Homo sapiens: one gene and its partners. The protein of the gene in region 3 purifies or fractionates together with the protein of the main gene of each other region. This does not show direct contact. Each region holds a gene or a part of one and is shown on either strand. Other genes may lie near its edges. The genes, in order: TUB, ZNF430 and SMYD5.

Evidence for each region.
Region 1: the proteins of SMYD5 (region 3) and TUB purify together in Homo sapiens (affinity purification with mass spectrometry; one large-scale study listed by BioGRID and IntAct). This does not show direct contact.
Region 2: the proteins of SMYD5 (region 3) and ZNF430 purify together in Homo sapiens (affinity purification with mass spectrometry; one large-scale study listed by BioGRID and IntAct). This does not show direct contact.

Annotation. Positions count from the first base shown.
Region 1 is NC_000011.10:8,087,586-8,091,232, forward strand, and holds part of TUB (tubby protein homolog), read left to right. Parts: intron 1-2,024; coding exon 2,025-2,076; intron 2,077-2,483; coding exon 2,484-2,646; intron 2,647-3,647. UniProt on the Homo sapiens protein: Functions in signal transduction from heterotrimeric G protein-coupled receptors. Binds to membranes containing phosphatidylinositol 4,5-bisphosphate. Can bind DNA (in vitro). May contribute to the regulation of transcription in the nucleus.
Region 2 is NC_000019.10:21,055,138-21,058,784, forward strand, and holds part of ZNF430 (zinc finger protein 430), read left to right. Parts: intron 1-1,493; coding exon 1,494-2,884; 3' UTR 2,885-3,647. UniProt on the Homo sapiens protein: May be involved in transcriptional regulation.
Region 3 is NC_000002.12:73,212,814-73,217,155, reverse strand, and holds the start of SMYD5 (protein-lysine N-trimethyltransferase SMYD5), read right to left. Parts: upstream 2,912-4,342; 5' UTR 2,890-2,911; coding exon 2,794-2,889; intron 1-2,793. UniProt on the Homo sapiens protein: Protein-lysine N-trimethyltransferase that specifically catalyzes trimethylation of 'Lys-22' of the RPL40/eL40 subunit of the 60S ribosome, thereby promoting translation elongation and protein synthesis.

The DNA of each region.
Region 1 (3,647 bases), on a different chromosome or scaffold from region 3:
AGGGGCCACTGTACAGAGCTTAGACTGCATTTTTCACGTGTGTCCTGAAAGTTGTGATGTGTATGCACTGTGCGTGTGGCTGACCACGGGGGACACTGGTGTTCGGGTCTGACCCTTTCAAGTCCGTCTGTGGGCAAATGCTTTGACTTTGCTTATTCAGTCAGGCTGTTGGCTTGAGCTGTAGAGATGGGAGGGTTGTAGCCTCTCAGGCCTGGCAGGGCCCTCAGGCATTTTGCGCTCTGGTCCTGAACCCTTTCTTCAGAAGTCTTCACTGCAGTCCTCCAGCCTGGGTGTGTGCCTTCCACAATGGGATGCCCAGCCTCTCAGCCAGCTGGAATATTTAGGGACCTGGTTGCATCCTGTGGTCCTGGCAATGCCCTCAGGGAGCCCCAAATGCAGCTGTGCCCTCTTAGGCAGATGGGCTGTTTCAAGAAGACCAAGGCCTAGAAGTATGGCTCTTGAGCGGTGTTTTCTCCTGTGCTCTGGCAGCTGAGGGTTTGGTGAATGAGGCTGTTGTGCACACAGCCCCAGATCACAGCTGGGGCTCCTCTGACATGCAGAGCAGCTCGTGGGTACAAGGAAAGACCTTCCCAGATGTCAAGTAGGCAGGACACCTGCTAGTTAAAAAACATGCATAGTCCTCATAGATCGTGGCCAAGGTGGTGGGCAGTCTGTGTTATGGGGGCTTCCTTCTACCCTCTGACTGGCTCCCTTGGAGGTGCAAGTAGTTGAAGGCTCATGTAGGTGGTCAATGATTGTTCCAGCTAGAAAGGGCTAGCCATCAGGAGGAGGTGAAAGTGGCTTCACTTTGTCCTCAGGGTGATGTGACCTCCTGTTTCCCCTTTGCACGCACACTGCGCTCACCTTCACACGAGCACACCCACTTCTTCACAGGTGTCTGCATGCACATGTGCACACACATGAGATATTCACACACTTCCTTATGGCCTCACACAAACCTAATGCACTCGGGCACGCCTGTGCAGGAACCTGGACACAGTCTGGTTCAGGGGCAGCTTCAGAATAACTGGGCCAGGGCCGCCTGGGGCTTCCCCAGAGCTCAGATCCTCAGGCTCCAACCTCACCTCATGCAGCTGTCCACACCTTGGCCTTTATAGCATTTGGGCCTAGGTCTCATGCATGTGTCTCTGGCTAGCAAAAAGCTAAGTGATTTGAGTTACCAGTTCCCTACTTGTGCCCTGCCTTCCTCAGAGGCATGGCCAGTGCGGGTGAGATGAGGCTCCCTGTCCCAAGACTGGTGGGGCTCAAGAATTTGATGTCCCCAGGGCTGCCTGTGCCATGTCTGCAGCCCGGGAAGGACCTGGTAGCTGGTTGCTGGGCTGTACATTGATGTGTTGTGTCCACCCTGCAGACACCTCTGTGTGGCCCAAACCCTGTAGGCTGAGGGACTGGTTGGTCTCTTAGCTTCATTCTCTCAAATGAGAAGGAGGACCCTCTGCCCTCTTTAAGTGGGGAAGGGGAGTAGACAAAGTCAGGACTCTACTCTGCCCACCTGGAAAGCTAGGAGTTTGCTTTCAACGGATGGGGAAAGGGTCTGCCCCAGAGGACGCAGCCTCCTCTAGAATGGTGGGAAGGAAGGAAAAGGCTGGGGCTGGTGAGATCCCAGTAGGGAGCTGGAGGGAGCAGCCCCCTGGGTTTGTTTGAAGCCTGGCCTCGGGCCTGGCTTGTTGCTGGGATGCCTCTGGATAGTTCTCTTGGATCTCAGTCAGGCCCGGCCCTGCTCAGGGATCTGAGGGGAGGGTCTCATCCGGTATTTACTGGGGAGTCCCTGGGGAAACAGGGGTCCTAGCAGGCTTCCAAAGTGGCAGCTCGAGCCCTTTTGGTTCAAGCTGGTTTCAAGATGGCAGGCTCCACCCTTCCTCCTTCTACCATGTGGGCTCACTGAGTCCCAGCAGCCGTGATGGGATGGGTTTAACGGGCCCAGATATGCTGGGGGTGGGCTCTGGGCTGTATATCCTGGCACCTCACGGGCAAGCCCTGAAAACCCCTCTTTCGCTCTGCAGTGTCTTAGATGATGAGGGCAGAAACCTGAGGCAGCAGAAGCTTGATCGGCAGGTGAGTAGGCCTGGGGCCGGGTAGAAGGGAAGAGTCTGGGCTGGGATCTCTGAGGGCAGAGGGGCAGGGCTGTCCATCTTCCCTGGATGATCCCGTCTGATTGGGGGATGGGATTCCCATGTGGAAGAAGAGAGGTGCACTCTCTCCCAGCTCAGCACTAACCCTGCCGCGGCACATGGGCTCCTGCCTTCAGGCAGCTGGGTGACTGCAGTTGGAGGGCTGGCTGTGCTGTGATCCTGCCAGGGCAGCCACCTGGGCCCTGTTTTGCCTCCCTTTCCTGGACCCCAAGTGTTGGGGTGCCAAGGACATGGGGCCTTGGCCCAAGGTGGGCTGTGGACCCCCCGATAACTGGGAGCCCGCCCTTCCTGGTGGAGGCAGTGGGTCAGCCAACCTCTGTGCCTCCATAGCGGGCCCTGCTGGAGCAGAAGCAGAAGAAGAAGCGCCAGGAGCCCCTGATGGTGCAGGCCAATGCAGATGGGCGGCCCCGGAGCCGGCGGGCCCGGCAGTCAGAGGAACAAGCCCCCCTGGTGGAGTCCTACCTCAGCAGCAGTGGCAGCACCAGCTACCAAGGTATACCTTGCCTGCTGCCCCACATCCCGTCACTGCTTCGGGGAGCCCGTCACTTCCTGCCCACCTAGGCAGGTGCGGACTGGTCCTGACGGGGGATGCCCAGGCTGTGTATGGCTTCCAGCCCAGGCAGACAGCTGAGTAGGGAGGGCAGAGGGAAGGTGGACCTGTAGCCTTGGGCGCCTGTGTATGCTCCAGCTGACACCTCCTGAATCAGGCACTGAGGCCAGAAGCCTAAACCTTTTATGAGGCCAGGAGTTCAGAAGTCCAAGTTTTGATCTGGAGCATTTCACTGAGTGCAGGAGGTAGCTTCTAAGAGTAGATGACCTGCTCCCCACCAGTATTCTACATTCTGAGAGGAATCCGTCTCACTGTCCTGCCCCATATCAACCAGTGTCTCAGTACAAACACCTTTTTCCTTCCCTCTCTGCACCGTGTCTGCCTGGCTTCTGACTTGCAGATCCCTCTCTCTGGCTCACAACTCCTTAAGAGCTGTAGTGACCTGGAGCCTGCAGCTCCCATCCTTAAATGTTCCAGGTCTCGGCAGAGCCCAGTTGGGAGAAATTCTCTGCAGCTCATCCTGGAGAGAGCACATCTCCAGAGATGGCTGCAGCACATCTCTGTTCTCAGGACCCTCCTTCCTGCTTGGGTTAGGTGAAGAGTAGGCCAGGCCAGACTGAGGGGTTGGGGGTCTCTGAGCTTGAAAGGAGGACTCAGACTCAGTCTCCACTGCCCCCTGCTGGTGCTAGTAATCCAGGCTGCTACTTCATCAAATAGTAATTCTAAAAAGGTTGCAGGCATCTGGCTTTTGCGGTTAGGAAGAACCTTAGCAGTCGTGGTGCTCCCCTCCTTCTGTGGCTTCGTTATGACCTGGAGCCTCCAGATACATCGAACTACTGGTAGTTGCCTCACCTCAGGGCTGAGCTTCTTCATCTAACTGCTGGCCCATACCCTGCCTCGCAGTATTTTAGGTTCTTCTCTGGGTTCCACTGACCCATAGCTCC
Region 2 (3,647 bases), on a different chromosome or scaffold from region 3:
TTTTCAATTTTTAAAATTAATATATACATTTTTTATGGTTTCTCTCTGAAACTTTTATATTTTTGATAAAACCATATTGCCTTATTTTGTATACATTGTAATCTTTGATTGAAATTTGTACATTTAAAAAAGCTACCTGTCACAATCCTTATAATGTAGCTTTGTCCTGGCATAGTCTGGACAATTGTCTTGATTAGAGATACTGGGAGTCTCTCAAACATGTTGCTAGAATGTGTCTTGTCTACAATTTTGTGTTTATTTTTTAATTAAAAGAGTTTGTGTTTCTTCTTTTTTTAGTTTTTTTTTTTGTTTGTTTTTTGTTTTTTTGTCAGACGGGGTCTTGCTCTGTCTCCCAGACTGGAGTGCAGTGGCGCAATCTCGGCTCACTGCACCCTCCGCCACCTGGGTTCAAGTGATTCTCCTGCCTCAGCCTCCCAAGTAGCTGGGAATACAGGTGTACGCTATCACACCTGGCTAACTTTTCTTTTGTTTTTTTAGTAGAGATGGAGTTTCACCATGTTGGCCAGGCTGGTCTCAAACTTGTGACCTCAAGTGATCCGCCAGCCTTGGCCTCCCAAAGTACTGGAATTACAGGCATGAACCACCACAACTGGCCTTTTTTTGTTTCTTCTTAATAGTAATAACTTGCTACACCTGTTTTCTGTGTGTGGCACTGCAGTCTCTCTGCTGCTGTAACATTTAGCTTTGGTCTCAGCAGACTTAAACTGTCATTCCAAAGTATACCACCATTTCTTTCAGCACTAGATGTCATAGGAGACAGAAACCAGTGTATAGATAGGTCCCTAGAAGCAAGTAATAAAGATGTATGTGGCAGTATTTTAATTGTCTTTTAAAAAAGAAACCAAAAGTTGGCAGTGGGGAGCAGGAAGAGCTGTGTTGGGTAAATTTAACAGACTTTTCTTTTTCTTCTGTGTCACTCTCTATGTTGTGCTCAGCTGGGGCACTTCACACACTTAACTTATTTATAAATTTTCCTCAGATGTATTTTTGTTGGATGTTTTTGTTACATTTACATGTCTGTAAAAAATTAGGGCCTTTGGGCCAGGCGCGGTGGCTGGTGTGCCAAAGTGCGGTAATCCCAGCACTTTGGGAGGCTGAAGTGGACGCATCATCTGAGGTCAGGAGTTCGAGACCAGACTGGCCAACATGGCGAAACCCCATCTCTACTAAAAATACAAAAATTAGCTGTGCGTGGTGGTGCGTGCCTGTAATCCCAGCTACTTTGGAGGCTGGGGCAGGAGAATAGCTTGAGCCTGGGTGGCGGAGGTGGCAGTGAGCAGAGATCACGCCATTGCACTCCATCCTGGGCTACAGAATGAGACTCTGTCTAAAAAAAAAAAAAAATTAGGGCCTTTATTATTTTGCTATGCCATCTTGTTTATGTAGTTTGTATAATTATATGGGTTAGATTTGTAAAGCATATTCATCTGAGTCTAGTAAATGGAGTAATTTGTTATTTTTATTTCTTTCAGTTACATATTCTCATTTTGCCCAAGACCTTTGGCCAGAGCAGGGCATAAAAGATTCTTTCCAAGAAGTCATATTGAGAAGATATGGAAAATGTGGACATGAAGATTTACAGTTAAGAACAGGCTGTAAAAGTGTGGATGAGTGTAATCTGCACAAAGAATGTTATGATGAACTAAACCAGTGTTTGACAACTACCCAGAGTGAAATATTTCAATATGATAAATATGTGAATGTCTTTTATAAATTTTCAAATCCAAATATACAAAAGATAAGACATACTGGAAAGAAGCCTTTCAAATGTAAAAAATGTGACAAATCGTTTTGCATGCTTTTACACCTAACTCAACATAAAAGAATTCATATTAGGGAAAATTCTTACCAATGTGAAGAATGTGGTAAAGTCTTTAACTGGTTCTCAACCCTTACTAGACACAGAAGAATTCATACTGGAGAGAAACCCTACAAATGTGAACAATGTGGCAAAGCTTTTAAGCAGTCCTCAACCCTTACTACACATAAGATAATTCATACTGGAGAGAAACCCTACAGATGTGAAGAATGTGGCAAAACCTTTAACCGGTCCTCACACCTTACTACACATAAAAGAATTCATACTGGAGAGAAACCCTACAGATGTGAAGAATGTGGCAGAGCTTTTAACCGGTCCTCACACCTTACTACACATAAGATTATTCATACTGGAGAGAAACCCTACAAATGTGAAGAATGTGGCAAAGCTTTTAACCAATCCTCAACCCTTACTACACATAAGATAATTCATGCTGGAGAGAAACCTTACAAATGTGAAGAATGTGGCAAAGCTTTTTACCGATTCTCATACCTTACTAAACATAAGATAATTCATACTGGAGAGAAATTCTACAAATGTGAAGAATGTGGCAAAGGCTTTAATTGGTCCTCGACCCTTACTAAACATAAAAGAATTCATACTGGAGAGAAACCCTACAAATGTGAACAATGTGGCAAAGCTTTTAATGAGTCCTCAAACCTTACTGCACATAAGATAATTCATACTGGAGAGAAACCCTACAAATGTGAAGAATGTGGCAAAGCCTTTAACCGGTCCCCAAAACTTACTGCACATAAGGTAATTCATTCTGGAGAGAAACCCTACAAATGTGAAGAATGTGGCAAAGCTTTTAACCAATTCTCAAACCTTACTAAACATAAGATAACTCATATTGGAGATACATCTTACAAATACCTAGAATGTGATAAAGCCTTTAGCCAGTCTTCAACTCTTACTAAACATAAGGTAATTCATACTGGAGAGAAACCCTACAACTGTGAAGAATACGGCAAAGCTTTCAACCAGTCCTCAAACCTTATTGAACAAAGTAATTCATACTGGAGAGAAACCCTACAAATGTGAAGATTGTGGCAAAGCCTCTAACCCGTCCTGAATTCTTACTAAACATAAGAACATTCATACTGAAGAGGAACCCTATGAGTGTGAAGAATATGGCAAAGCCTTCAACAAGTCCTCAATTCTTACCAGACATAAGATAATTCTGGCTGGGTGCGGTGGCTCACACCTGTAATCCCAGCACTTTGGGAGGCTGAGACGGGTGAATTACATGAGGTTGGGAGTTCGAGACCAGCCTGACCAACATGGTGAAATCCTGTCTCTACTAAAAATACAAAATTAGCCATGCGTAGTGGTGCATGCCTGTAATCCCAGCTACTCGGGAGGCTGAGGCAGGAGAATTGCTTGAACCCGGGAGGCAGAGGTTGAAGTGAGCTGAGATCGCGCCATTGCACTCCAGCCTGGGCAACAAGAGTGGCACTCCATCTCAGAAAAAAAAAAAAAAGATAATTCATACTGAAAAGAAACTCTACAAACTTGAAAGATGTGACAGTGCTTTTGACAACACCTAAAACTTTTAAACATAAAAAATCATACTGGTGAGAAATCCTAGAAATGTAAAGAATGTGACAAGGCCTTTAAATGGTTGTCACACTTCATTATAGGTAAGATAGTTCATACTGAAGAAAACTTCTACAAGTGTGAACAGTGTGGCAAAACTTTTAATGAATGCTCACACCTTATTGCACAGGAGAGCATTTATACTTGAAAAAAATTGTACAAATATAAAGACCATGAAAAAGCCATTAATATCTATTCACATCTTACC
Region 3 (4,342 bases):
ATATGGTGAAACCCTGTCTCTACTAAAAATACAAAAATTAGCTGGACATGGTGGTGTTCACCTGTAGTCCCAGCTACTCGGAAGGCTGAGGCAGGAGAATCGCTTGAACCCAGGAGGCGGAGGTTGCAGTGAGCCAAGATTGTACTACTGCACTATAGCCTGGGCAACAGAGTAAGACTCCATCTCAAAAAAAAAAAGAAGGTTGGAGAGCACTGAACCTGAATGGAAAGGGGACAAACCATACATACTTCCAATTTGAAAAAAAAGTTTTAAGAAAAAATCGTGCAGGCCGGGTATGGTGGCTCACACTGTAAATCTAGCACTTTGGGAAGCAAGGATGAAGGATCGCTTGAGCCCAGGAGTTTGAGACCAGCCTGGGCAACACAGCAAGACCCCATCTCTATAAAAAAAAATAGTGCAAAACTCTTAAGACTATGTAATAGATTTTTGTTGTTGTTGTTGAGATGGAGTCTCCCTCTGTCGCCCAGGCTGGAGTGCAGTAGCACGACCTCAGCTCACTGCAACTTCTGCCTCCTGGGTTCAAGCAATTCTCGTGCCTGGCCCTCAGGTAGCTGGGATTACAGGTGTGCACCACCACGCCCGACTAATTTTTGTATTTTTAGTACAGATGGGGTTTCACCATGTTGGTCAGGCTGGTCTCGAACTCCTGACATCAAGTTCAAGTGATCCGCCCCTCTCGGCCTCCCAAAGTGCTGGGATTACAGGTGTGAGCCACCACGCCAGGCCTAATTTTTGTATTTTTAGTAGAGACAGGGTTTCACCATGTTGGCCAGACTGGTCTTGAACTCCTGATCTCAAGTGATCAGCCCACCTTGGCCTCCGAAAGCGCTGGAATTAAAGGAATGAGCCACCATGCCCGGGCAGACTATGTAGTAGATTTTAAAATCTTGATTAAAAGAAGAAAGCCCACAATAAGCCATGCTGCTATCCGGCTAGTGCACCAGTATGGTAATCCAGCTGGCTTCCACTGGACCTGGTGAGGTTTCTGTTCTGACTGGTCATGTCTCTGGCATAATAGTTGATAAATTTTTGAAAAGTCATTCCTATCCACAGAAGCAATAAACAGTAGTCAAAAACTACTCCCACTTGAGGCCCCTGGTCTATATAGTTTCATGACCCAATTCTCTCAAACCTTTAAAGAATAAATAATGCTCATGCTATTTAAACAATGTAATGACAGAAAGCATTTCTGTTTTACCAAAAAAAAACAAGTATAACCCTCATGTGGCAACTTGAGGAAAATAACACAGAGAAAAAAATCACAAACCAATCTCATTTGAATAGAGAAGCAAAAAGCCCAGGATAATCCATGCTGTTACCAAGTCCAGGCAGGTATGTTATTTTCTCCAGCAGCAGATCAGATGTAGGCAAGGAGAGGGCAATCAGCTAGGGCCTTGATAGAAGCCTGGGACAGGAAAACTGTGCAAGGAGAGTGGCTGAAGTGAAGAAGCGAGAGGGAAGAAATGAAGAAAGGAAGGGGCTGAGAGACTGGGGGCTAATGAAGAAAAAGGTGAAGAATATCACTGCAAACCAAGAATGATGGAACTGAGAGGCCTTCAAACTGTGGCCACCCAGGAGCACTAGAGACTATGGAGATGGAGATAGGAACAGGTAAGGAGACCAGGGATGTAGGGAAGCTGATTTACCAGGGAAGGAGCAAACTGCTCCAGATACCTCTAGAGCAGAAAGGGGGCACGGAAGGTTGAGCTGGAAAACTAGATCAATATGATGACGCTGAGAGCAGACAACAGACAACTAGAGGTCTTACGTCTTGGGCAAGAACCAACCATACACACAGCCACTACACAGGATAAATTATTCAACCTCACTAGTAACCAAAGAAACGTAAATGAGAACAAATATAATTTTACACATATCAATAGGCAAAGATAACTAGGAAAAAAATACTGCTGGACAAAACAAGAGGATGTTTGCACAGAAAATGAGCTCTAAGACTTTTGACTCTGGGGATGAAAAATACCATACAACAATAAAGGGTCCATTAATAAGGGGTTGGTTGAGTGAACTGTGACCCTCTCACGGAAGAAGCTACTACTCAGCTCTTAAAACTTAATATGTAGAAATAGGCTTGATATTGAAAGATTCACTGCTGCATCAAAAAGCAGTTTCTAAAAATGTAATTTTAACGTACTCATCTTTGCACAAGTATAGAAGTATGGGTGATTTTTGTATTTTCTTTCCTTACATGCATTTTGTATTTTTTTCTACAATGAACTTTTGGAACACAATAAAAACGACAAAATCACGTCACCTTCCTGCTAAAAACTCTCCCAATGCCCCCACGGCCTTTGGACTCTGGTCCAAATTCCTCAGCACTCCAAGGACCCTCGTGAAGGATCTTGGCCTCTCTCCTCATCCCCTCACCCAAATCTCACACATGAAGTTCGTGAGGACTCCCTCTTTTACACCTCAGTTCTCTCTGCCCGGCACATCCCCGCCCACCGTTCCAGGGATACAGCAGCAAAGCCCCCTAGCCCCGCCCCGAGCAGCCACAGAAGGGCCTCCCGCGGGCTGGCCGAATTCCGCTGGGAGGAAATGCGCACGGAGACTCCGGAGGCCCGGGTCTATCGCGTGACCGCGCCACGAGCCTGCGCGCAGGGACAGACTGGGAGCCCCCGGGCCGCGAGCAGGGGCAGGGCCGTAGCGTCCGAGCGGCACAGAAGCCTCTGGGCTCCGGGCATGGAGTCCGGCCGGGCTGTCTCCATGGCCGGACTGGGGAGAGGCTCCCGGCAGGACCCGCCCCGACCTCACCTTGGCGCTGCTCACGAAACGGACTTCCACGGAGACCCGCGCGCGGCCCGCCACGCCCACGCAGAAGGAGAACACGTCGCACATGGAGGCCGCCATCTTGGGCGCGCCTCCGCCTTATGACCCTTAACCCCGCCTCGACCTGAGAGGCCACACCCCCTTCTGGTCCCGCCCCCGGCGAGAGTGCCCCTGAGGCTGCGAGGTTTTGGGCTCCACCAAGTCTGAATTTAGGTTCCGTGGTTTGTTGACGGGAGTGTAACTGGGCCTGCCTTTGTGCTTTTACATCGGTGCCTTTTTGTGTCTGTACCTCTGTATCAGAGTCTGTGTGCGCGTACAGTTTTGATGTGTGTATCTTTGAGTCCGTTGCATGTTTTGTTGTGGTTTTTTTTTTTTGAGATAGTCTCACTCTGTCGCCCAGGCTGGTGTGCAGTGGCGCGATCTCGGCTCAGTGCAACCTCTGCCTCCCAGGTTCAAGTGATTCATTCTCCTGCCTCAGCCTCCCGAGTAGCTGGGCGTACAGGCGTGCGCCACTAAGCCCAGCTAATTTTTGTATTTTTAGGGGTTTCACCATGTTGGCCAGGCTGGTCTCGAACTCCTGACCTCAAGTGATCCGCCCGCCTCGACCTCCTAAAGTGTTGGGATTACAGGCGTGAGCCACCTCGCCCGGCCTCCGATGCATGTTTCTATGTATGTTGTCTCTGTCCACACAGTGGCCTGTCTTCACTGAGTAAAGCGCTCTTTGGACCCAGCCCTAGAGTGGGACAGCAGAAGGCCAACTTACTCCTATCCTGTCTAGCTCTCAGCCTGAAGGGAAGGACTAGCTTATACCCCGGAGCTCACTCACCCCACTTGAAGAGTCCAGGACAAGATTTCCTTTCTCGGTAATCCCTCTGGCAGCAGAACAGTCCTGCCAAAGGTCAGGGTGGACTTGTGCCTCTGTCAGATTCTTCAATGGCTTAGGGACCTTGCAACCGGGGGTAGCGGAGGAGTCCATAGGGGACCTCAGATCTGAGAACCTCTGAAACTGGATACAGAAGTGAGTGTGCATATGCACACACTGTCGTGAAAAGGGGGAGGGGCCTGTTCTCTCAGGACCCCAAGAAGCTGCAAACCACAGACCTATGGCATTTGTCCCCACAGCTAGGCCTGACTATCAAGCCTTGTTTTGTTTCCTTGTCCCCTGATTTTGTGAGTTTTGTTTGAGACAGGGTCTCGCTTTGTCGCCCATACTGGCATGGGGCGATCTCGGCTCACGGCAGCCTCCAGCTCCCGGGCTCAAGAACAGACTGGGCAACGTAGTGAGACCTTGTCTCTCCAAAAAATAGAAAAATTTGCCGGGCGTGGTGATGCGTGGGAGGATCACCTGAACCTGGGGAGGTCTAGACTGCAATGAGCCGTGATCAAGCCACAATTATCTATCAAATAATTATAGATAGATAGATAGTTGGCAGGGACAGAGAAAGGTTCTTGAAACTGACCCTGCCTCTCCTCAAGCTTGCAACCTGGTGTCAAGGAGCGAATAGTCCACGGACTTGGGGGAGATAGATAGTTG